Homo sapiens: one gene and its partners. The protein of the gene in region 3 interacts with the protein of the main gene of each other region in a biochemical or structural test. Each region holds a gene or a part of one and is shown on either strand. Other genes may lie near its edges. The genes, in order: SGTA, USP13, BAG6 and AMFR.

Region 1 (7,044 bases), on a different chromosome or scaffold from region 3:
CAGATGCACCGTGAAGACATCACACTCAGGGAGAGAGGCCAGACACAAAAGGACGCACAGCATGTGATCCCATTTCTTTTTTTTCTTTTTTGAGATGGAGTCTCGCTCTGTCGCCCAGGCTGGAGTGCAGTGGCGTGATCTCGGCTCACTGCAACCTCTGACTCCCTGGTTCAAGCAATTCTCCTGCCTCAGCCTTCTGAGTAGCTGGGACTACAGAAGCCTACCACCACGCCCGGCTAATTTTTGTATTTCTAGTAGAGACAGGTTTCACTGTGTTGGCCAGGATGGTCTTGGTCTCCTGATCTTGCGATCCGCCTGCGTCGGCCTCCCAAAGTGCTGGGATTATAAGCATGAGCCACCGCGCCCGGGCTTATATTTTTAAAGCGTAAGCTTTGTGGCATGTAAATTATATCTCAATAAAACTGTTTAGGGAAACACACGCTGATACCCATCTTCCCCCCACGCCCTCCTGAATTGGGATCTCGGGGGCGGGAGTGGGTTTCTGTCTTCAGGGCTCTCAGTTCTAGGATAGCAGCTGGGGTTTTTACCGTCCTACCAGCTGGGACCCATGCCTCAGATAGAAGCCCCATTGCCTATGAAATGAGAAGGTATCACATGAGTATTCCAAAATACAGGCCTCCACTTGGGCTCTTTCCAAAAGCAATAGCGAAAGGGACAGTTTCCGTCCCCGGGCCGGTGAGCTGTATTAACTGTTCTGCTCCCGGGGTCGCCATCCAGGCAGTGACAGCCACCGTCGCCAGGCACAGGCCAGGCCAGGCCCTGCCGCCCCCACCTCCATCCCCCTTAGTGGATGTAGATATGATTGTTTGCGACTAGCGAACCCCCTATAGATGCAGATGCCTCCTGAGCCGGCATCTGTGTTGAGTCCTGGCTGCCCAGAAGAGCCAAGTGTGACGCCCCCTCGGGTCTGTGTGGACACCAGGCCGGTGTTTTCCTCTCTCCCTGACACCCCCTCCGGTCTGTGTGGACACCGGGCCGGTGTTTTCCTCTCTCCCTGTAGGAAACGAGCAGATGAAAGTGGAAAACTTTGAAGCTGCCGTGCATTTCTACGGAAAAGCCATCGAGCTCAACCCAGCCAACGCCGTCTATTTCTGCAACAGGTACCAGCTCAGGGCCTGCCCAGGGCAGGGGCGGCCGGGTGCGGGGGCGTCCTCCGGGATGCTTAGCAGGGACCTGAGATGGGAGAGGCCTCTGCGCTGTAGATGAGGGATCCATTCACCGGTGGTCTCAGACCAGGAGCGAGCATCAGGTGACCAGCAACGGGGTCGGGGAGAGTCGATGCTGATTTAAAATCAGGTAGCACGCCCAGCACTCTGGGAGGCCATGGGGGAAAGATCACTTGAGGCTAGGAGTTCGGGACTAGCCTGGGCAACATATCAAGACCCCCGTCTCTACAGAAAATGTAAAAATTAGTCTGGGGGCCAGGCGCGGTGGCTCACGTCTGTAATTCCAGCACTTTGGGAGGCTGAGGCGGGGGGGATCACTTGAGGTTGAGAGTTCAAGACCAGCCTGGCTAACATGGTGAAACCCCGTCTTTACTAAAAATACAAAATTAGCCGGGTGTAGTGGTGGGCACCACCAGTTACTCAAGAGGCTGAGGTATGAGGATGGTTTGAACCTGGGAGGCAGAGGTTGCAGTGAGCCAAGATTGCGCCACTGCCCTCCATCTTGGGTGACAGGGAGACTCTGTCTCAAAAAAACCCCGAAAAAAACCACAAAAATTAGCTGGATGTGGTGGTGGGTGCCTGTAGTCCCAGCTACCTGGGAGGCTGAGGCAGGAAAATCACTTGAACCCGGGAGGCAGAGGTTGCAGTGAGCTGAGATCGTGTCACTGCACTCCAGCCTGGGCAGCAGAGCAAAACCCTGTTTCAAAAATAATAAATACATAAATACATACATAGAAAATCAGGTATCATGGCATTCCACGTGGATGTCAAGCCAAGAAAATAATCCAGTATGTGGAGGGTTGTGTTTTTTGAATGTGTGGTCTTGGATCTGCTTCAGGCTTACAGGACAGTTGCAGAGGCAGTGCAGGGTTCCTGGCCGCCTGTCATGGGGTAGTTTAGTCTCCACTCACTCTTCTCTGTACTTTGAAAAAATTGTAAAGAGAAACACTAAACACGAAAATGGTGAAGACGATTCAGACGCTGTAAGCCAAGAGCTTTGAGCTTTGACATTGGTCTGAGTTCTTTTTTTACTGATATGTAAATAATTTGTGAATGAAACTTGGGTATAAGTTCCCTACCCTCATTGCTCTTGTACAGCCATGGATCGGAACATTTTTTGCAAATAAAATTCAGAGTCGCAGTCCTGAGTGGCTGCTGGTGCTTTGAGCCCACATTTGTCTAAGAGCATCTCAGTGGCCACACCTCTCAGCTTTCCCCATCAGCCCCATTTTACAGATGGGGAAAACTGAGGCCGTTCCTCCAGGAAGTTGGAGAGGAACGCAGCTCTCAGGCTCCCCTCAAGGGCTGCCCGCTGGGCTCAGAGCCGCCAGTGAGGGACCTGCCCTGCCTTTTCTTCCCCAGAGCCGCAGCCTACAGCAAACTCGGCAACTACGCAGGCGCGGTGCAGGACTGTGAGCGGGCCATCTGCATTGACCCGGCCTACAGCAAGGCCTACGGCAGGATGGGGTGAGTGCCTGTCCACGGCCGCGCCTTTCCAGTCTCTCGGGACCCCTCCTCTCCTGCTCCTGCTTCCTCTCTTGTGTGGCTTTTTTCCCACCCACAACGAATTCTCCCACCCCGGTTCAGTTCAACTCTGACACTAGCTGTTCGGAGCCAACGTAGTCCCTACAGGTCACAGGCTCAGCCCCACAGACGCCCCGCATCAGGTGCCACCCGGAGATCCCTGGGCCCCTTGCTTCTCCCTGACTGGCTGTCACCTGGGGTTCCCATGGCTCCTACTCAGGCTCCATTGTTTGCTGGGGCGGCTCACAGAGCTCAGGGAAGCACCTGGTTTATGATGAAGGACACAGGACAGGTCCGAGAGTGAGGCCAGGAGGGTCCCCGGGGCAGGAGCCTGCGCCCCGTGCAGCCGGTGCCGCCCTCCCAGCATAAGCGTGCATTCGCCTGCTTCTCTGAATGCCCTTGCTCAGAGTTTGTGGGATTGGGTCTCCCCAGAGGCTGGGGAGGGGCCCTGTTCAACTGCCCAGTCTCCCCAGGACCCGCCTCCTCCTGGGCTCTGTAGGGGCCCTGAGTCACCTCACGAGTGAAGACTCACTCAGGTGGGGGTCAGGGGCTGCTTGTGGATGACGGGAGACATGTCTGTCGCTCAGAGGTTCCGAGGGTCCTTGGTGCCCTGTGCCGGGAAGCGGGGCCAAGACAACATCCACGCATTTCCTGTGACCCTGAGCTGGCCCGCTCCCTCCTCTCAGCCCGCTCTGGGCTTTGAGGCCCTGTGTGTGGCCCCATGGGGACTCCAGTTCTTGTGTGGCAGGGGTGTTCTCATGTCTGTCTCCCTCAGTCCTGCCCCTGGGCCCCTCGAAAGCCAGGTTTGTCTCCACTGAGCTGACAGCGGGCAGGGGGTGGCACCATCCGAGGTGGTTTGGGGGTTGCCAGGACCGCCGGGGACGAGGGCTTTGGCGGGGCCTCCTGGAGCTGGGCAGATGGGAACAGTCCATCCCCGGTGCTCTCCTCCAGCCTGGCGCTCTCCAGCCTCAACAAGCACGTGGAGGCCGTGGCTTACTACAAGAAGGCTCTGGAGCTGGACCCCGACAACGAGACATACAAGTCCAACCTCAAGATAGCGGAGCTGAAGCTGCGGGAGGCCCCCAGCCCCGTGAGTGCAGCGGGGGCGAGTGGCTCCAGAACGCCGAGCTGACTGTGTGGGTGGGGGACAGGTCCTCGGGCGCACCAGTGGCTCTAGGCTTAACCTGGGTGTCGTGAGGGTCCGGGGTTTGTTTCAGTTGGTGGTGAGATGCACAGGCGTGGAAGTGAGTGTCGTGAGAAGGTTCATGCCCCCAGACCCCTGGAAGCAGGAGGCCGGCCGCAGGGCTGCCCGCGGAGGCTGAGGGAGGGGCACAGAAAGGACCCTCGATGTGGGTTTTGTGGCGAGGCCGGGTGAGGAGGCTTCGGGTTGGCTGGTTGGAGCCATTTCATTAGACCCAGGCCTGGGGGCTGCCCCTGGTTGCCTGGTCCCTGGCCTGGGGGTGAGTGGGGCAGGTGGACTGTGGCCCTGGGGTGATGGGGGAGGTGCTGAGGGTGTGGGTTCTGGGTTAGTTTGTTTGTATTTCAAAGGTGCGTTTCTGGGTGAGTCATTTGCTTTCTCTGGGAATTGGCTACTCCAGGAGGGGGCGGCTCTGCCAGGCCAGCAAGGCCCCAAGGTGTCAAAGCGGCAGAATACAGGAAATCAACACGGGATGATAGACTGTGCCGTCCCCGGGCGGTCGCGCTGTACGGGGAATAAACACGGGATGATAGACTGTGCCGTCCCCGGGCGGTCGCGCTGTGCGGGGAATAAACACGGGATGATAGACTGTGCCGTCCCCGGGCGGTCGCGCTGTGCGGGGAATAAACACGGGATGATAGACTGTGCCGTCCCCGGGCGGTCGCGCTGTGCGGGGAATAAACACGGGATGACAGACTGTGCCGTCCCCGGGCGGTTGCGATGTGCTTCGTGCTGCCTGCCTCAAAGCACCCTCTGGCCGCAGGGTTGATAGAATGTCTGAGCCCCGTGGGGGGCCGTTGTTTCTGAGTTCCAGGGGGTTATTCACCGTGGCCTCTGGTCCAGGCCCCACTAACCAGGGCTGTTCTCATCCTCAGACGGGAGGCGTGGGCAGCTTCGACATCGCCGGCCTGCTGAACAACCCTGGCTTCATGAGCATGGTAACGGCCCGCCCCTCCTCCCTGTCCATGGTGTCTGCGCCACCCCCCAGGCCCGCATCTGCTGTGTCCGCTACTGGCCAGGGCTTCCTTGCCTTGGCACTGCTGGCTTCTGGAACCAGATGGGTCTTGTCTGTGGGGTCGTCCTGGGCACCGCAGGGCGCTGGCAGCACCCCTGGCCTCACCCGCCCCATGTCAGGAGCACCCCCACCCTCTGCTTCGACAATCAAAAGTGTCCCCAATGTTGATGTCCCAAGCAAGACCCATCAGTAGTGAGCACCAAAAGCTGGCTCTCCTGGCTGAGCCCAGGGAGGTCACACCCCCACCCCACCCTGGCGTGGGCTCCTCCTCGCAGTGCAGAGACACTGATCACAACACAGCAGCGTCTGCCTCCTAAGGTTCAGGCAAGGGAAGCAGAGCGCCGGGTGCGCCGGGCGCAGGTGGACCTCCCGATGCCCGGGCACTCATGCTTCCAAAGGGACGGCCTTTGGCAGGGAGTTCCTTGACTGGGATCCTCGGAGAGCCATCCCCCACACACACATGTTCATTTCCTGGGAGGTCTGTGTGCCCTGGGACCACTCTTCAGGCTCCCACAGCCTCAGGGTACAGGGACTCGCCTAAGGCTGTCGGGGAGAAAAGCCCTCAGTCTCACTGTCAGTCAGAAAAATGAGCCAGCTGGGCCAGGAGCCCTGCCCGGGTCGTGCCATTCAGCAGAGGCCACACCTCTTACTGTAGCCCTCGTCCGCTGGCCAAGCTGCCAGGGGAATATGTTCTCCCTCACCATGGGATGGAGGGTGACTGGGCCCCAGTCTTTCAAGGGGCCTCTCAGCTTGGCCATGTCACAGACGCCTTTTCCCTTCAGACATCTGGGGTTGGCAGAATAAGGCCCGCCGCTGGGTTTTGTTAATAAAGTTTTTTTTGGTTTTTTTTTTTTTTTTTTTTTTTGAGATGGAGTCTCGCTCTGTCGCCCAGGTTGGAGTGCAGTGGTGTGATCTCAGCTCACTGCAACCTCCGCCTCCCAGGTTCAAGCGATTCTCCTGCGTCAGCCTCCCGAGTAGCTGGGATTACAGGTGCCCACCACCATGCCTGGCTAATTTTGGTATTTTTTAATAGAAATGGGGTTTCACCATGTTTGCCAGGCTGGTCTCGAACTCCTGACCTTGTGATCCACCCGCCTCGGCCCCCCAAAGTGCTGGGATTACAGGTGTGAGCCACTACACCTGACCAATAAAGTTTTATTGGCACACAGCCATGCCCATTCATACACCTAGTGTCACTGGTGGCTTTCATGATACGGCGGCAGAGCTGAGTAGTTGCGTCAGGCACCCGTGTCTGAAAAGGCTGAGAGTATTTACACACTGGCCCTTTACACAGAGAGTTTGCCACACCTCTGAGCCACCTCCTTTCAACAGGTCCAAAGGAATAATCCCAAGTGGAAAGTTAACATGAGAAAGTGCCCAGTATAGTGCTATTTATTTATTTATTTATTTTTACTTCTTTTTTGAGACAGAGTCTCACTCTGTCACCCAGGCTGGAGTGCAGCGGTGTGATCTCGGCTCACTGCAACCTCCCCCTCCCAGGTTCAGGCGATTCTTGTGCCTCAGTTTCCCAAGTAGCTGGGACTACAGGCATGCACCACCACACCTGGCTAATTTCATATTTTTAGTAGAGACGGGGTTTCACCATGTTGGTTAGGCTGGTCTCGAACTCCTGACCTCAAGCGATCTGCCTGCCTCGGCCTCCTAAAGTGCTGGGATTCCAGGCGTGAACCACCGCGCCCAGCCACAGTGCTATTTATTGATAGAGCAAAACTGGAACCAAATATGCTAAATGAAATATGCTAAAGCAGACAGCAGCTAAAATAAAGAACCAAAACGCCTCCACACAGCAAAACCGCAGCAGCCAGTGAGAGAGCGCTGTGGCGCTGCGAGATCGCTCCTGAAGCAGGAACCCAAAACAGGATTTAAGTCACAATGTGGAGGTCACAGCTCGTGGGTGGGGGGGCGAAAATGTAGGGAAAAGGGTATGAAAGACCGAATGCCCGGCTCTTACTGTTGGTTGGCGTGCTGGAGTCCAGAACCAAGGCTGGTTAAGATGGAAAGTGTCTGATGAAAGAGAATGATGCGCTGGGAGCTTTGTCTTCCTGACAAATTTGTTCTGTTCTTCAGGCTTCGAACCTAATGAACAATCCCCAGATTCA
Region 2 (7,044 bases), on a different chromosome or scaffold from region 3:
GGAGAGTGGAGAGTAGCTAAGACAAGAAGCGACAGTTTCCTCTTTCACACTAGAATATCCTGTTGTGCTCTGTAGCATCAGACATCGATGAGTCATCAGTGATGCAGCTGGCCGAGATGGGTTTCCCGCTGGAAGCATGTCGCAAGGCTGTGTACTTCACTGGAAATATGGGCGCCGAGGTGGCCTTCAACTGGATCATTGTTCACATGGAAGAGCCAGGTAGGTGGCGAGAAAATGGAATGGCTTTGGAGTCTGATGTGACCCTCAGTGATGCTGAGTCCTGGTCCTTCCAAGGTCCCTGTGGATGTATCCCTAGAAAATGACTTTATAGTTCCTAATCTCCTGCAGTGGAGGAGAAAGCCAGTCTTTTTCTTCTTCTTTTTTTTTTTAAAAACAGCAGCTTTAGGCCAGGCGTGGGGGCTCATGCCTGTAATCCCAGCACTTTGGGAGGCCAAGGCAGGCGGATCACGAAGTCAAGAGATGAAGACCATCCTGGCCAACATAGTGAAACCCCATCTCTACTAAAGATACAAAAATTAGCTGGGCATGGTGGTGCGTACCTGTAGTCCCAGCTACTCAGGAGGCTGAGGCAGGAGAATCGCTTGAACGCAGGAGGCGGAGGCTGCAGTGAGCCAAGATTGCACCACTGCACTCTGGCCTGAGTGACAGAGCGAGACTCTGTCTCAAAAAAACAAACAAACAAAAAAACAACAAAAAAAACCCCAAACAGCTTTATTGAGATATAATTCATCCCTTTAAAGTGTATAAGTCAGTGGCAAAAAGACCAATAGAAAGATACGGGATATACTTCTAACTAAGCGATGATGAAAATTTGAAATGGAAACATGGGCATGAAGAAATGGAGGATGTTTAGTTAGCTTTTTCTTTTATCTACTTTATTAAGCTATAATGCATATATTCATCTGTTTAAAGTGTACATTTCAATGGTTTTTCATAAATTCACAGTTGTGTAACCATTACCACTATCAAATTTTAGAACATTTTGTACCCTTCAAAAGAAATCTCATACATAATAGCAGTCACTCCCCATTTTCCTGCTCACCCCAGCCCCTGGCAACCACGAATCTGTTTTCTGGATCAAGGGATTTGCCTGTTTTGGACATTTCATATAAATGGAGTCATATAATAAAAGGTCGTTTGTGTTTGGTTTCTATCACTTAGCATAGTGCTTTCAAGATTCATCTATGTTGTAGCATGTGTCAGTACTTCATTCCTTTTTACGGTAAAATAATAGTCTGTTGGGTCGGGTTTGGTGGCTTACGCCTGTAATCCCAGCACTTTGGAAGGCCAAGGCAGGAGGATCATTTGAGGTCAAGAGTTCAAGACCAGCCTGGCCAACATGGTGAAACCCCATCTCTATTAAAAATGCAAAAATTGTCTGGGCATGGTGGCGGGCACCTGGAGTCTCAGCTACTTGGGAGACTGAGGCAGGAGAATTGCTTGAGCCCAGGAGACGGAGGTTGCAGTGAGCTGAGATCACGCCACTGCCCTCCAGCCTGGGCAACAGAGTGAGACTCCATCTAAAATAATAATAATAATAACAATAATAATAGTCTATTTTATGGGTATACTATATTTTATTAATCTTTATCAGTTCATGGACATTTGGGTTATTTACATTTTTTGGCTTTTATGAACAATGCTGCTATAAACATTTTTTACAAGTTTTTGTGTGGATGGACATTTATTTTTACTTCTCTTGAGTGGAATTGCCATGTCATATGGTAACTCTATATTTAATTTTGAGGAACGACCAAACTGTTTTACACAGTGGCTGAACCATTTTACATTTCCACCAGTAATGAATGTGAGTTCCAATTTCTCCATATCATCACTAACCCTTATTATTATCTTTTTTATCATACCCATCCCAGTGGGTATGAAGTGGTATCTTGTGGTTTTGGTTTGCATTTTCCTAATGACTAATGATGTTGAACAACTTTTCGTATGTTTATTGACTGTATATCTTATTTGGAGATATGTCTATTCAAATTCTTTGCCCATTTCTAATGAAGTTATCCTTTTATTATTGAGTTCTAAGAGTTCTTTACAAATTCCAGATACGAGTTTCTATGAGATATATGATTTGTGTTTTCCCCCCCATTCTGGTGTTTTTTCACTTTCTTGATGGTATCCTTTGAAGCACAAACATTTTTAATTTTGATGATGTCCAATTTATCTTTTTTTTCTTTTATCACTTGTGCTTTTTGTGTTGTAAATAAGAAACCATTGCCTAATCCAATGGCAAAGACTTACTCCTGTGTTTTCTTCTAAGATTATTATAGTTTTAGCTCCTATATTTAGGTCAATGAGCCATTTTGAGTTAATTTTGTGTATGATGTGAGGTGAGGGTCTGACTTTATTCTTTTGTATGTGGATATCCAGTTGTCCCAGCATCATTTGTTGAAAATAATGTCCTTTCCCCACTGAATGGTCTTGTTGAAAATCAGTTAACCACAGGTATATGGTTTTATTTCTGGAATCTCAATTCTATTTAATCGATCCATATGTCTGCCTATATACCAGTACCAGACTGTCTTTTTTTTTGAGACAGAGCCTTGCTCTCTTGCCCAGGCTGGAGTGCAGTGGTGCAATCTCAGCTCACTGCAACCTCCGCCTCTTGGGTTCAAGCGATTCTTGTGCCTCAGCCTCCCAAGTAGCTGGATTACAGGTGTGCACCACCATGCCCTGCTAATTTTTGTATTTTTAGTAGAGACAGGATTTTGCCATGTTGGCCAGGCTGGCCACGAACTCCTGACCTCAGGCGATCCACTCGCCTTGGCCTCCCAAAGTGCTGGGATTACAGGCATGAGCCACTGCGCCTGGCCCAGACTGTCTTGATTATTATAACTTTGTAGAATCATGTTTTTCCTTGTTAGTGTTGTTTCAGGACAAAAAAAAAAAAAAAAAAAGGAAAAGACTTGGGTGTGGTTATTTTTCTCAGATTTTGCTGAGCCGCTGACCATGCCTGGTTATGGAGGGGCAGCTTCTGCTGGAGCCTCTGTTTTTGGTGCTTCTGGACTGGATAACCAACCTCCAGAGGAAATCGTAGCTATCATCACCTCCATGGGATTTCAGCGAAATCAGGCTATTCAGGCACTACGAGCAACGGTGAGCATGAGAGACTGTGTGTGTGTGTGTGTGTGTGTGTGTGTGTGAATTTATTTCTGTAGCAGTTGAGACTTTCCAATGTACTTTGATCATTTTGATTCATGTTTGATTCATCTAACTGTGAATCTCATCATAGCCCATAAAGATTTATTTGCATATTATAAATATAAAGCTAAAATGAATGATTTTCACACAGCGAATGAGATAAATAAATCTGGGGTAATATGAGCAAACTGAAAGAAACTTGATATCATCTTGAATGTTTGTTAACAGGGGGTCAGAAATTTGACTTGGAGGCTGCTTGTGGCCCTAGAGGAAAGAGGGATGCATGAAATTCCATGTTCAGTAAGAAGTCCTTTAGGAGATAGAATGCTTTTCTGATACCAAGACCTTGGGTAAATGTCTCTTAAAAGTCCTCATAGAAAACTGAATGGCTCCTTGGAATTCTCTGCTGCTGTTTCTCTCTGCAGAAAGAGAAGGTTCTTCTGGTAGCCATGAACTTCTTGATACCAAGAAACAAGGGACTCTGAAACTACAGGGTAGACAATTCCCTTCTGCAGTGCTGATATCTGTTTAATCTTGAGGGAAGGTACTTAAAAAACAAAACAAAACCCATCCTTCCTGGTCACACCATAATCCATTTTTGAGTAGATATCTGCTCTCAATTACTTCTTGCCTATCCTGATGGGGTGCCTGCTAGGATCCGTTGCTGAGGTCACAGTGGCTCTTGATTGTCTCATGAGGATGTGGCTAGGACAACCTGTCTCCCTTTAAGATGATTAAAATATCTCAACCAGAGTTTGTTTTACTTGGGGTACTTTCTTGTGCTCCACTCATTTTATTTGCCTGACTGTTTCATTAGAGGTTTTATATCTATACAAATTCTTTAACCTGCCAGAAATATCACAAGCTGAGAAAGATGGAAATATTTTTATGGTCAATTAGTTTGAAGTACATGGAGTTCAGTTTAAACAATTATACTTAACTAATCAGTGTTGTTGTCATTAATCAAGATATTAATCTTGTCTTTACTGGAATTCAAACATTTTACCAACATTCCAGGAGAGAAGGCTCTAACATAATACCACACTGGCATCCCTCTATTGTTCAGTTATCTGCAGAAAATACAGTTGGTAGAGAAGGTAGTGTGTGCAATTAAAGTGGCTTTAGAAAGAGCTGCACTTAAACAAATGCCATACCCTTGGTTATTCCACACCTATTATTATCAGCATCTTCCTGCAGAAAAGCTGAGCTAACATTGATATAAACTTTGGAATGCTGATCTGCTGCTTAGAACTCTTTTCCAGTGAATCCAATTACAGATGTCAGCTGGGAGACTTGCAGAATGCCATGCCAACTGAACGTGCCTGTCATGCGGAGTCAGAGCTTCTTACTCAGTGGCACTTAGGACTAATTAATTCAGACCTCCTTCCCTATCTGCCTGACATCTAGTTGAAATGGTCAGGACATAGTGAGGCCTGAGGCTGCATGCATTGTAAAAACATCTGTTTCTTTTTTGTTGTTAGAATAATAACCTGGAAAGAGCACTGGATTGGATCTTTAGCCACCCTGAGTTTGAAGAAGACAGTGATTTTGTGATTGAGATGGAGAATAATGCCAATGCAAACATTATTTCTGAGGCCAAGCCCGAAGGACCTAGAGTCAAGGATGGATCTGGAAGTAAGTTCTTGCCTTAGAGGCTGTCTGAGCAGTCAGAACTATACGTTCAGCTCATGCCCTTCCCTCCCACCACAACATAGTCAAGCCTTTGCCATCATTCAAAAGTTAGCACAGATCCCATCTTCTTCGTTTTTTTTTTTTTTCTTTTTTGAGACAGAGTCTCACACTGTTGCCAGGCTGGTGTGCTGTGGCGCGATCTCGGCTCACTGCAACCTCCGCCTCCCAGGTTCAAGCCATTCTCCTGCTTCAGCCTCCCGAGTAGCTGGGATTACAGGCATGTGCCACCACACCCAGCTAATTTTTGTATTTTTAGTAGAGACGGGGATTCACCATGTTGGCCTGGCTGGTCTTGATCTCCTGACCTCGTGATATGCCTGTCTCGGCCTCCCAAAGTGCTGGGATTACAGGCATGAGCCACCATGCCTGGCCAGATCCCATCTTCTTAGAAATGGTGCAGTTTGCCACTTTGCATAGGCCCCGGTGATCTGATAAAGTCATGTCAGAATCATGTTGCTTGGTCATGTTTGTGCCCAAGTTTAGGGCCAACTTTGATTTTGTCTGTTCCTTTGAGGTAAAATTTCTTCATGGACCATGGGAGCTTTTGTCAAAAAGAGAACATTTGTTTTCATGGTAGTGTTTTTTGAGTAGTAGCAAAGTGGTCTCATCCTTGATCATATCGTTACCCGTACCAACTACTAATAATATCCTGAAGGGGTGTCTCAGGATGACAGGAAGAGGCGCCATAGGCCGTTGTTCTGCCTTTTAATAGCAAACACTTATGTATGTCACTATGTGCCAGGCACTGTTCTAAGCACTTTGCATATCAACACTCATGTAATTCTCACTACAACTGATTTTACAGGTGAGAAAATATAAGCATAGAGAGCTTGGGTACCTTGCCAAAGGCCACACAGCTCTTAAGAGATGGAGCCAAGATTCAAACCCAGAATCCTTGTTCTTAACCTTTGTGATATCCTGTTTCTTGGGCTGTCATTGCCTGTAGAATAACATTCAGGCTCTTTAGCTTGGCATTCAGCACCTCCTCCAGTCAGATCCAGGCCACCTGGTCTCCCAGTGTCACTTCTATACTCCCTATACCTGCAGCTGAGATGCCTGGGACTGTAGCCACACTCTTAGCCTACTCAGCTGTCAACAACTCTCTTCTCACTTAACCTGCAGACTCAGGTTAACCCCTATTTGTGAAATGAGCCTTCTCTCCCATCACTGCACACTAAAATTCTCATCATTATTTAGAACTTGGCCACAGATTCCATTTCTCTGGACTGCCTTCCTAGATCCTTGTCATAATCAGCTCATGCTTACCTCATATGCTAGCAATAATTATACCAGTATGAAAAATACTCCCATTTGTGCCATCTTTAATCCTCACAGTAACCTTATGAGGTACATACCATTATTATCCCCATTTTACAGGTGAAGAACCTGAGATAGAGAAGGCTAAGTAATAGCTTGTCAAGGTCTCATAGCTAGTGATGGATAGAACCACAATTCCAGTGCAGGCAGTCTGCCTCCAGAGCCTGTGCCTGTAGCCACTGTAATGCATTGTTAGTTTTTTTTGGTTTTTTTTTTTTTTGAGACAGAGTCTCACTCCATCACCCAGGCTGGAGTGCAGTGGCACGATCTTGGCTCACTGCAACCTCCACCTCCCAGGTTCAAGCGATTCTCCTGCTTCAGCCTCCCGAGTAGCTGGAATTACAGGTTTGGGCCACCACGCTCCCTTGTTAGTTCTTCTGTTGTTGGAGGTATCAAGTTGATCTTGCAATAAAATTACTTCTGTAGGTATTTGTGTCTCCCATTTGACTAGGAGCTTGCCCAGGGCAGAGGCCATTTGGCTTTTATAAAACTCATGGTGTCTAGCATGGTGCTAGACACATAGAAAGTACTGAGTAAATAACAGTTGTATTTAACTAAATCTACACTAGCAGCATTTGTTCCTATAATCATATAGTGGCAGATTTACTCATTAATGTTCTTTCCAGACCTAACATGTACGTATTCATATACAGATAGAAAGAGACGGTGGGAGGGAACTGTCTTCTTCTTTTTTTTAATATAAAATAGGAATTTCATCACTGAAACTGTTTCAATGCCAACTGGATAAGAAAGGATGAGATGTCGTTCTCCCAATTTCCATACTCATTTAAAGTATCTGGTATTACTTTTCAGAAATTACTAGCTTGCCTAAAATATTTAAAGCTGTAACAGACAGGT
Region 3 (4,178 bases):
AAGATGAAGAAAATGAGGTTTAGAAAAAGAAAGTATAGTAATTAGTGTCACTGCTTTCTGACAGCCTGTTCAGAGGAAGAGGTAGGTAAGTTGTGCTGCCTGACTCTGTTAAATACCTACCATACTTCTGCTTTAAGCAGTGAAGATCAGAATGTAACTCCCCATCTTCCCAGACCCGTTGGTTTGTGCCCTCTTGATGCCGTATTATTTCCGTGTGTCTTCATTCTCACCTCACTTTCTGTTCTTTGTTCTTTCTTTATTTGCCAGGCAACACAGACAGCCCCTCCACCACCCCCACCTCCTCCACCCCCACCACCTGCCCCAGAGCAGCAGACCATGCCCCCACCAGGCTCCCCTTCTGGTGGCGCAGGGAGTCCTGGAGGCCTGGGTCTTGAGAGCCTGTCACCGGAGTTTTTTACCTCAGTGGTGCAGGGTGTGCTCAGCTCCCTGCTGGGCTCCCTGGGGGCTCGGGCTGGCAGCAGTGAAAGTATTGCTGCCTTCATACAACGCCTCAGTGGATCCAGCAACATCTTTGAGCCTGGAGCTGATGGGGCCCTTGGTGAGCAAAAAGGATGCTTTGGCTTGCTCCAGGAAGGGGCAGCCAGAGGAATGTAGATGGCCTTGGTTTAGGGGTGTTGCCAAGGTGGGATGAGGTTGATGATCTGGTTGTGGGTGGGCAGGCCAGGTGGTAAAGGCCATTGCTAACATCTGCCCTTGTCCCCCAGGATTCTTTGGGGCCTTGCTTTCTCTTCTGTGCCAGAACTTCTCTATGGTGGACGTAGTGATGCTTCTCCATGGGCATTTCCAGCCACTACAACGGCTCCAGCCCCAGCTGCGATCCTTCTTCCACCAGCACTACCTGGGTGGTCAGGAGCCCACACCCAGTAACATCCGGGTAAATGAAGGCCAGGGGCCCCAGAACTCTCCTCTTTTGCACATTTTATTCCTTATTTCTGACTGCTTCTCTGCCAGGTAAAGCTCCAATTGCCCCCACACAAGCCCTGGACTTGTTGGGGTCGAGGTGGAAGTCTTGGGAGGACTGAGGCTTTGAACTAAACCTGTTCTGTTTCCTCCACAGATGGCAACCCACACATTGATCACGGGGCTAGAAGAGTATGTGCGGGAGAGTTTTGTGAGTAACCCTTCTCTATTCCTTTCCTCTCCTGGGTCTGGTCAAGGCAGCTGCCTCCTCCACTCCCAGTCTTATGATTCTTGATTTTGGGATCTTTGTGTTATCTTGTCTCTCAGTCCTTGGTGCAGGTTCAGCCAGGTGTGGACATCATCCGGACAAACCTGGAATTTCTCCAAGAGCAGTTTAATAGCATTGCTGCGCATGTGCTGCATTGCACAGGTCAGGGGCTGGCCAGGCGGGGGCAAGTGGGGCCTGTTGCATGTGCAGGGCTGCCACGTGCCAGCATTCCCTCCTTGTATTTTGCCCACAGATAGTGGATTTGGGGCCCGGTTGCTGGAGTTGTGTAACCAAGGCCTGTTTGAATGCCTGGCCCTAAACCTGCACTGCTTGGGGGGACAGCAGATGGAGCTTGCTGCTGTTATCAATGGCCGAATTGTAAGCACCACCTAGCCCCAGATCCTTAGCCTTTTGTTTCCTGAGGTTTCCATTCTCTGCAGTTTTCATTTTTCTTTTCTAAACTGACATTCTGTAACCTGGATCTAATCTATTTCTAAAGGTGGTTGAGGGTTTTGTGTTCTAAATCTGCTTTCTGTCCCTCAGCGTCGTATGTCTCGTGGGGTGAATCCCTCCTTGGTGAGCTGGCTGACCACTATGATGGGACTGAGGCTTCAGGTGGTACTGGAGCACATGCCTGTAGGCCCTGATGCCATTCTCAGATACGTTCGCAGGGTTGGTGATCCCCCCCAGGTAAGGGACCTGTTGGGCGATGGGGTCAGGGTACTTGAGAGAACTGGAGAGATCTGAGAGGAAGTATGGTGTTCTTTAATTTCACAGCCACTTCCTGAGGAGCCAATGGAAGTTCAGGGAGCAGAAAGAGCTTCCCCTGAGCCTCAGGTACTCTAGAGAGGGGGAGGTTGAGGGGCCAGATAATGTGGAGTGGAGGGCTGGGGGAGAAAGGTTTGGAGGCTAAAAATTCTGAAGCCTGGCTCTTCCCGCCATCTGACACCCAGCGGGAGAATGCTTCCCCAGCCCCTGGAACAACAGCAGAAGAGGCCATGTCCCGAGGTCCACCTCCTGCTCCTGAGGGGGGCTCCCGGGATGAACAGGATGGAGCTTCAGCTGAGACAGAACCTTGGGCAGCTGCAGTCCCCCCAGTAAGTGTCAGGAAGTAATCCAGTGGGTCATGGCAGCTGAAAGTCAAGGACATTACTATTTTCTCTTTTCCTCCCCAGGAATGGGTCCCTATTATCCAGCAGGACATTCAGAGCCAGCGGAAGGTGAAACCGCAGCCCCCTCTGAGTGATGCCTACCTCAGTGGTATGCCTGCCAAGAGACGCAAGGTTGGTTTTCCTCTTCCCTAAGCCTCTCTCTCTATCCAGGTTTCCCCGTCATGCCTGGAATCAAACTATGTAGAGATGGTGGGAGCTCTTGTTATTCAGTCTCCCCTCCCCTCGTTTAATGAGGAAACTTTTTCTGGGATTCAGACTTGCTCTTGGTTGTTGCATAACCATACAGGACTTGACCTTAGTCTGTTTGCTAGCAGTCCTGTATTAGTTGCTCAGCTGCCTAATCCCCATGTGCTTAGATCCCATTTTCCTTTAAGGTGGGTTTCCTCTTGTGGATTACCTAGCTCTGAATCCCGGATGGCTTGACCCCTTCTGCCTTTCGTTTTGAAGAGCACGTTCAAGCACATTCACTTTAGTTTTGGCTAGTGCCAAAGAGAATTAGGAAGGCATTTCTGCTGTAAAAACCACATCCTGGACTCTTAATTTCCCCTCTCTCCACTAGCATGGAGACTCAGTGGAGTGGTTGACTCATGGAAAGGGTGAGCCGGATGGTGGCACTGGATCTGACGTTGATCCTCTTTTCCCTCCCAACCCCCTGTCCCCCAGACGATGCAGGGTGAGGGCCCCCAGCTGCTTCTCTCAGAGGCTGTGAGCCGGGCAGCTAAGGCAGCCGGAGCTCGGCCCCTGACGAGCCCCGAGAGCCTGAGCCGGGACCTGGAGGCACCAGAGGTTCAGGAGAGCTACAGGCAGCAGGTGCCACCTTGAAGCAGAATAGGGATGGTCTAGTGGGAGGGGTTGGGCTAGGGTCCCTCTTCCCTGGATCCCTTCAGCGATGAACTGGTCAGCCTGGTGCTACCATTTGTTTTCCCCTTTGGCATCTGGGAAGGCTTGACAGTGCCACCCCGGGCTATTTGACAGTGTGCTTGGGGGGGGAAATGTTAGCTTCTGAGGGATGGCCTTGTGTGCTTGCTGGGATCATGGGGACTTGGCCAGCGTTTCTCCAACCTGCTTACTTTTTCTCTTTAGCTCCGGTCTGATATACAAAAACGACTGCAGGAAGACCCCAACTACAGTCCCCAGCGCTTCCCCAATGCCCAGCGGGCCTTTGCTGATGATCCTTAGCTCTTTGCTCTATGGCCCTTCCTCATCAGGGGACCGTTTCCCCCCTCTTCCTTCACAGTATTTAAGAAATAAAAGTCGGATTTTTCTGGCTGCTTTCTCTCTACATTGTCTCCATTAGGTAGTGTGTCCCTTAATCTTGTGTGAACTTTTTTAAATTAATACTTCCTTGGAACACTGTTGTGTTCTACTCAGCACGCTAAATTGTACAAGCCAGTTTTGATGTTTGTTTTTTTTTTTTTTTGAGACAGAGTATTGCTGTCTCCCAGGCTGGAGTGCAGTGGCCCGATCTCGAGCTCGGCTCACTACAACCTCCACCTCCCGGGTTCAAGTGATTCTCACTCATGCCTCAGCCTCCTGAGTAGCTGGGACTACAGGCGTCCGCCACGACGCCCGGCTAATTTTTGTATTTTTAGTAGAGACAGGGTTTCACCATATTGGCCAGGCTGGTCTCGAACTCCTGACCTTGTGATCCACCCGCCTTGGCCTCCCAAAGTGCTGGAATTACAGGCGTGGGCCACCGCGCCCAGCCTGATGTTTGTATTTTTTGTGCGAAAGCACTTTATATATAAATAAAAAACCTGTATTTTGAGTTGGGAGCATATTCCAGGTGCACACTAGCATAGAGCTCTCAAATTACC
Region 4 (7,000 bases), on a different chromosome or scaffold from region 3:
CCGGAAGCTGGGCTGTTAAATTAAAAGTCTGTTGAATCTTCTGATTTAAGAGGGAGGTTGAGAAGGTGAAGAGGAGACCGGGGGTGAAGGAGGTGGGGAGGAGGTGAAGGAGGTGGGGCAGGTGGCTCTGCTGTGAGAGGAGGAGGTGAGCAACCCCCTTGAAGGTTTCTTTCTCAAAATGTGGACCTCTGGCATCCTGGTATGTGGTCATCTGGGGTACTTGTAAAATGTAGTTTCCCTGGGGATCCATTTCAGAGAGAAGGGTGGAGCCTTGGAATCTTCATTTTAATGAATGCCCTAGGTGATTTGAGGAACACTAGTGGTTGAAAAACTGACCTAGGAAGAGGCTAGAGTGTGATGTCATGTAACCTTGACCTTGCTTGCTCTACCAAGTGTGGACAGTATTTTGTGGAGTGAGAGAAGCCATTGATGGGGCTTAAGTGGGGGTGGGGCATGGAGGAGTGGGGGTGCTGGCATGATTTCTTTTAGAAGATTGGGAGCAGTGTGGAAGATAGATTTATGTAGAGTGGGAAGAGGACGGGAGATCTAGTGACCTAAAACTTCCTCCTCCCAAGGGGGCCTCTCCAGGTGGCCCTCAGGCATGACATTGAGAAAGGATTTGGGAGGAGACTTCAGGGTTTTTACACTAACAAATATGTGGGTTTGACCTGAGAATTTGTTTCTCCTTGTCTTTCTAAAACTTCCATCCTAAAGTTTCATTTCAGATGAGTTTTTATTTTGTTACTCATTTCTGGGCTATTTTACATTGCTCAGATAATGCTTCCATTCAGCTACCTCTTGGTCCATTCTAGCATGGTTTTGGATTGTTCAGGTGTTTTGGCTTTTTCATTTTTTAATTCTTACTCATTACTTTTATTAGTTCCCTTTTCTGCTTTCTTAAATATCTGCTTCTAAAATTCTAAGAGCAAGATACGTGAATGGAGAAATAGAAATATGAAACTAATGTCAAGGTTCTGACTTAATTATGCAAATAATATCATTTAAATAGAACTCTCAAGGGGAAAAATGACCACAAACAAAAGTGGATAAAAGTGAATTGACCATTTAGAACAGGGATTGGCAAACTCGTGACCTATTTGACTAGGCCTGTTTTTGTCTTAACAGCTAAGAATGGTTTTTATATTTTTAAAGGGTTGTAAAACAAATTAAATAAATTAAGGAAGTTGCAGAGCCTAAAATATTCACTATCTGAGAGCACTTTAGAGAAAAATTGGCTGAATCCTATTTTAAAGAGCCGATTTTCGTATTATTATAAAACTTAAGGGCTGGGTTCAGTGGTTCACACCGGCAGTCTCAGCAGTTTGAGAGGCGGAGGCTGAGGCAGGAGGTGGAGGATTGCTTGAGGCCAGGAGCTGCCCAGGAGTCTGGGCAACATAGTGAGACCCCCTGCTCTACCAAAAAAAAAAAAAAAATTAGTCACCATTATAATTATGTGAAAATAGGCTTTTTAAAATAAGAGTCAGCCAATTTTTCTCTAAAGTGCTCTCAGATGGTGAATATTTTAGGCTCTGCAACTTCCTTATTTAATTTGTTTTACAACCCTTTAAAGATATAAAATACCTGCTTCTAAAATTCTAAGAGCAAGACATGTAAATGGAGAAATAGAAATATGAAACTACTGTCAAGGTTCTGACTTAATTATGCAAATTAAGTGTAGTGGCCTGTGCTGTAGTCCTAGCTGCTTGGGAGGCTGAGGCAGGAGGATTGCTTGAACCCAGAAGCTCAAGGTTACAGTGAGCTATGATTGTGCCACTGCACTGCAGTTTGGGCCAGAGTGAGACTCTGGTCTCAAAAAAAAAAAACAAAACAAAATTAAGAGCTGAAAGTGACTTCCTAGGTTTTAGTCTTTATGAGTTGACTATTTCAAGGTATATGAGGGAAAAATGTTAGCTCCAGAAATGTTGGGGCAGCTGAAGGAAAAAAGACTAAACTTGTGAATAATTGGATGTGAGCCTAGATAAATTAAAAATAAAAGGAATGTCTTCCAGGTGAGGGAGAAGGGGACTGCTATTTGATCACCTCCTAGGTATGCTTTGCGTGCGGACTCTCGTCTATTTCCCTAGTCTTGTTAAAGAAGGAACACAGTTATCATCTATGTGATGAAGGGGAGTGTGTGCATGTTTGTATTATGTGTTTGTTTCTGGGAGCCTGCAGAGAGGTAACAATACGTGAATTGTCCTTAAAGGGAGGAAACCACCAAATGGTAGGGGGCGCAGGGGAGTGGTGCTGGTGTAGGCAGGAGTCTAAGAAATATCCAGATTGACCATGTCTTGGAATAGGTTCCTAGTAGTTTAATCCCATGTCTTTGCAAGGTCATAAATAAGCACCTGTTGGTGGCCAACATTTTACAGGGTCAAAAACACCTGTAGGGTTACATGGTGATAAATGCACCTTCCTCTCTTTTTCTCCCAGGCAGGCCTAACTATTTTATAATTTAGTTTCTGTTTTCTCCAGTAGAAGAGTAGAACCATTCTGGAAGGGACATTTTCCTGCTGGGCCTTGGAGTGAAGGGAATTAACTTTGAGCCTTGAGTAAGTCAGGGTTGCTGGGATCACTGCTGCCTGACCTGCTACACTCTGAACGGGGACAAGTAAAACTTGTTTTTATTTTGTGTAGACTGGAAAAAAAAGGCATTTGGTGAGTTTTTAAAAAATGACTTGAAGCTTTGACAGCACTATAGCTATGAGAAACATTCTGAAGTGTTTTAATATAGTTGAATTTTTTTTTTTTTGAGTCAGAGTCTTTCTCTGTCGCCCAGGCTGGAGTGCAATGGCACAATCTCGGCTCACTGCAATCTCCGCCTCCTGGGTTCAAGCAATTCTCCTGCCTCAGCCACCCAAGTAGCTGAGATTACAGGTGTGCACCACCATGCCCAGCTAATTTTTTGTATTTTTAGTAGACACGGGATTTCACCATGTTGGCCAGGCTGGTCTTGAACTGCTGACCTCAGGTGATCCACTAACCTTGGCCTCCCAAAGTGCTGAGATTACAGGCATGAGCCACCACGCCTGGCCATAGTTGAAATACTGTGCTGTAACAGGAGAACTTGTTTTGGTTTGTTACTCATCAGTTTGTCATCATATGGTGAGAAAAATAATGTGGAATTGCAGAACTAGTCAGGTTAGTTTAGTAGATTCTAAACTTTAAAAAAATTTTAAAAAATAGATAATGCATGCTCAGGGTACAAAAGTTAAGGGGTACAGGCCTGGCATGGTGGCTCACACCTGTAATCTCAGCACTTTGGGAGGCCGAGGTGGGAGGATCACCTGAGGTCAGGAGATTGAGACCAGCCTGACCAACATGGTGAAACCCGTCTCTACTAAAAATACAAAAATTAGCCAGGCATGGTGGCAGGTGCCTGTAATCTCAGCTACTTGGGAAGCTGAGGCAGGAGAATCGCTTGAACCTGGGAGGTGGAAGTTGCAGTGAGCCAAGAATGCGCCGCTGCAGTCCAGCCCGGGCGACAGAGTGAGACTCTGTCTAAAATTAAAAAAAAAAAAAAAAGTTAAGGGATACAGAAGTGACATGCAGTGAAAAGTAGATCTCTCTCTCTCCCTGTTACCTGCTTCTCTCTTCCAGAAATGGCAATTATCAAATTCTTGTAATAAGTACTGTTGTTAAGTAGGAGACTAAGAAATACCCAAATTGATCAAGTCCTTGACAGTTCACACCTACATATTATACAAACGTGTGTGCACATATTTCCTTTTTTTTTTTGAGACGGAGTCTCGCTCTGTTGCCCAGGCTGGAGTGCAGTGGCGCGATCTCGGTTCACTGCAAGCTCCGCCTCCCAGGTTCACTCCATTCTCCTGCCTCAGCCTCCTGAATAGCTGGGACTACAGGCGCCCACCATGTGCCCGGATAATTTTTTGTATTTTTAGTAGAGATGGAGTTTGACTGAGTTAACCAGGATGGTCTCGATCTCCTGACCTCGTGATCCGCCCGCCTCGGCCTCCCAAAGTGCTGGGATTACAGGTGTGAGCCAGTGCGCCTGGCGTTTTTTTGTTTTTTGTTTTTTTTTGAGATGGAGTCTCACTCTGTCACCTAGGCTGGAGTGCAGTGGCATGATCTCGGCTCACTGCAACCTACGCCTCCCGGGTTCAAGCGATTCTCCTGCTTCAGCCTCCTGACTAGCTGGGATTACAGGAGAGCACTACCACCCCTGGCTAATTTTTGTATTTTTAGTAGAGATGGGGTTGCACCATGTTGGTCAGGCTGGTCTTGAACTCCTGACGTCGTGATTCTCCCTCGTCAGCCTCCCAAAGTGCTGGGATTACAGGCATGTTCCACTGTGCCTGATTCAGGGATTTATTTTATTTTAGTTTACTTTTTTTAAGCAGTTTTTTTTTTTTTTTTTGAATCAGAGTCTCACTCCGATTGCCCAGGCTAGAGTACAGTGATGCTATTTGGGCTTATTGCAGCCTCAACCTCCCTGTGTCTAGGGTGATTCTCCCACCTTAGCCTCCCAAGTAGCTGGGACTACAGGCACACACCACCATGCCTGGCTACATTTGTTGTGTTTTTAGTAGAGATGGGGTTTTGCCATGTTGCTCAGTCTGGTCTCGAACCCCTGGACTCAAGCAACTCACCCACCTTGGCCTTCCAAAGTACTGGGATTATAGACATGAGCCAGTGCTTTTAAATGAGGAATGCTCCAGTTATGTTTCTTTCAGTATAGGTTGAGAATACTTTATCCAAAATGCTTGGGACCCGAAGTTTTGGATTTGGGATTTTTTTCCTGGATTTTGGAATATTTGCATATACATAATGAAATATTTTGGGGATGGGACCCAAATGTAAACATGAAATTCCTCTGTTTCATATACATCTCATTCATACACATACCCTGAAGGTAGTTTCATTTTTCCCTTAGGGACACTGAGTAAACTGTTGTAAGTCTGCATTTTGACTGCGACTCGTCACATGAGGTCAGGTGTGGAATTTTCCACTTGTGACGCCATGTTGGTGCTCAGAAAGTTTTGGATTTTGGAGCATTTCAGATTTTGGATTTTTGCATCAGGGTTGCTCAATTGTATTTACAATTTTTCAAGCCTTTGTTAACTGAAGTTGAGAAGTTATATGTATGACACAATATTATTTATTTATTTATTTGAGACAAGGCCTCACTATGTTGCTCAGGCTGGAGCAGTACAGTGGTGCAATCACGGTTCCCTGCAGCCTTGACCTCCTGGGCTCAAGAGATCCTCCCACCTCAGCCTCCTCAGTAGCTGGGACTACAGGTGCACACCACCCCACCCGGCTAATTTTTGTATCTTTTGTGGAGATGGGGTTTCACTATGTTGGCCAGGCTGGTCTTGAACTCCTGAGTTCAAGCAATCCCCCCACCTTGGCCTCCGAAAGTGCTGGGATTATAGGTGCGAGATACTGTGCCAGGTCAGTATTTGTAATTAACATATAATCATTATAATTAAGGTATTTTTCTATAAATAGACATGGAATAGTTATTAATAATCATTAAGGTGTTTTAAAAAACTTTGCTTATAATCTTAAAATAAGGATTGCTTTCAATCCTTTGTAGCTTTGGTTACAAAGTTCACAACAGCTTATCTACTTTTTACATAAATTCCCTTTTTAGTATCAGTATACTCAGACTTTTTTTTTTTTTTTCCTGGTTAGCCATGTTAATTTTCAAATCTTCATTTAAATTAAAATAGGAAGTGGTTGTTCTATGGGTGATGGGATTATAAGAGACTTTTACCTTTTTTTGGATAAATTAAAGATACACATTTTTTATACCTTATTTGAATTCAAAGACTTATTTAGGCTGGGCGCAGTGGCTCATGCCTGTAATCCCAGTACTTTGGGAGGCCGAGGCAGACGGATCACTTGAGCCCAGGAGTTCGAGACCAGCCTGGGCAGCATGGTGAAACCATGTCTCTATAAAAAAATTCAAAAATTAGTGTGGTAGCTCACACCTGTAATCCCAGCTACTTGGGAGGCTGATACAGGAGAATAGCTTGAACCTGGAAGGCCGAGGTTGCAGTGAGCGGAGATTGCACCATTGTGCTTTAGTTTGGGCAACAGAGTGAGACTGTCAGAAAAAAAATAAATAAATAGACTTTTATTTAAAGAGTTTGAGAAATAGTAAATAATACTTTATTTTTTATTTGATAACTTAAGATGTGTGTGACAGTACTGTTTTGAATAGAGAAATGTTTAAGTGACCCTAAATTTGTTTTTTTTCTCCATCATTACTCTCGTAGTAGCCTGCTTGGCCTTCTGTTAAATTGCTTACCATGCTCTATCTCTTGTAGATTCTAAAAGCTCTTTGAGTTTAGGGTTCAGAGCTCCCTCATTTTTCTGATTTCCCACATGCCTCGAACAAGTGCTAAATGTGTTGCATTTATTTTTTAAATTCATATGACTGACTACATGTAAAAACGGGAAGAATTATTTTAAGAAATTGCGTCGTAATAAAGCTGGGGCATGTTTGGCTGGGGGATGTGACATGAGGGGTTGTGGTTTTGTCTTATGACATTTCTCTTAGTTAATGTGGCTGAGATTGGTTAGATCACAATGAAGGTGAGTCTTTTTAGCATCTATTTCATCACCTTAAAAATGAACATTTCAAGTTACCTGAATTGTTTTTTCTTTTTAAAAAATTTTATATATTTTTCAGTAGGGGCAAGGTTTTGCTGTGTTGCCCAGGCTGGTCTCAAATTCCTGGCCTCAAGCAGTCCTCCCACCTTGGTCTCCCAAAGTGCCAGGATTACAAGTGTGAGCCACCATGCTCCTGGTGATCTGGACCATTTTGAATAGGTCTGTTACACAGATTAGGATATTTGGGGCAACTAGTTTGGGCGTTTGTTCCTGGTTGTTTGAAGGATTTAAGTACCAAAACAGTTTATTTCTTTAGCAGAACTATTTTCGTTTCAATCCTTTAAAAATGTATTACATACTTCCTTGGCCCATTAGGCAGACAGAATAGAACTAAATTTAATCATTTGTAATGAATCAG

What was found.
Region 1: the proteins of BAG6 (region 3) and SGTA form a complex in vitro, tested with the Homo sapiens proteins (4 studies listed by BioGRID, with this or other methods).
Region 2: the proteins of BAG6 (region 3) and USP13 form a complex in vitro, tested with the Homo sapiens proteins (one study listed by BioGRID).
Region 4: the proteins of BAG6 (region 3) and AMFR form a complex in vitro, tested with the Homo sapiens proteins (2 studies listed by BioGRID, with this or other methods).

The regions. Positions count from the first base shown.
Region 1 is NC_000019.10:2,759,263-2,766,306, reverse strand, and holds part of SGTA (small glutamine-rich tetratricopeptide repeat-containing protein alpha), read left to right. Parts: intron 1-1,021; coding exon 1,022-1,121; intron 1,122-2,549; coding exon 2,550-2,654; intron 2,655-3,662; coding exon 3,663-3,801; intron 3,802-4,784; coding exon 4,785-4,847; intron 4,848-7,012; coding exon 7,013-7,044. UniProt on the Homo sapiens protein: Co-chaperone that binds misfolded and hydrophobic patches-containing client proteins in the cytosol. Mediates their targeting to the endoplasmic reticulum but also regulates their sorting to the proteasome when targeting fails.
Region 2 is NC_000003.12:179,761,037-179,768,080, forward strand, and holds part of USP13 (ubiquitin carboxyl-terminal hydrolase 13), read left to right. Parts: intron 1-75; coding exon 76-219; intron 220-2,965; coding exon 2,966-3,132; intron 3,133-4,658; coding exon 4,659-4,812; intron 4,813-7,044. UniProt on the Homo sapiens protein: Deubiquitinase that mediates deubiquitination of target proteins such as BECN1, MITF, SKP2 and USP10 and is involved in various processes such as autophagy, endoplasmic reticulum-associated degradation (ERAD), cell cycle progression or DNA damage response.
Region 3 is NC_000006.12:31,638,493-31,642,670, reverse strand, and holds the end of BAG6 (large proline-rich protein BAG6), read left to right. Parts: intron 1-267; coding exon 268-559; intron 560-725; coding exon 726-895; intron 896-1,078; coding exon 1,079-1,132; intron 1,133-1,248; coding exon 1,249-1,351; intron 1,352-1,442; coding exon 1,443-1,567; intron 1,568-1,732; coding exon 1,733-1,879; intron 1,880-1,966; coding exon 1,967-2,026; intron 2,027-2,142; coding exon 2,143-2,286; intron 2,287-2,364; coding exon 2,365-2,472; intron 2,473-3,024; coding exon 3,025-3,171; intron 3,172-3,444; coding exon 3,445-3,540; 3' UTR 3,541-3,643; downstream 3,644-4,178. UniProt on the Homo sapiens protein: ATP-independent molecular chaperone preventing the aggregation of misfolded and hydrophobic patches-containing proteins.
Region 4 is NC_000016.10:56,415,546-56,422,545, reverse strand, and holds part of AMFR (E3 ubiquitin-protein ligase AMFR), read left to right. Parts: intron 1-7,000. UniProt on the Homo sapiens protein: E3 ubiquitin-protein ligase that mediates the polyubiquitination of lysine and cysteine residues on target proteins, such as CD3D, CYP3A4, CFTR, INSIG1, SOAT2/ACAT2 and APOB for proteasomal degradation.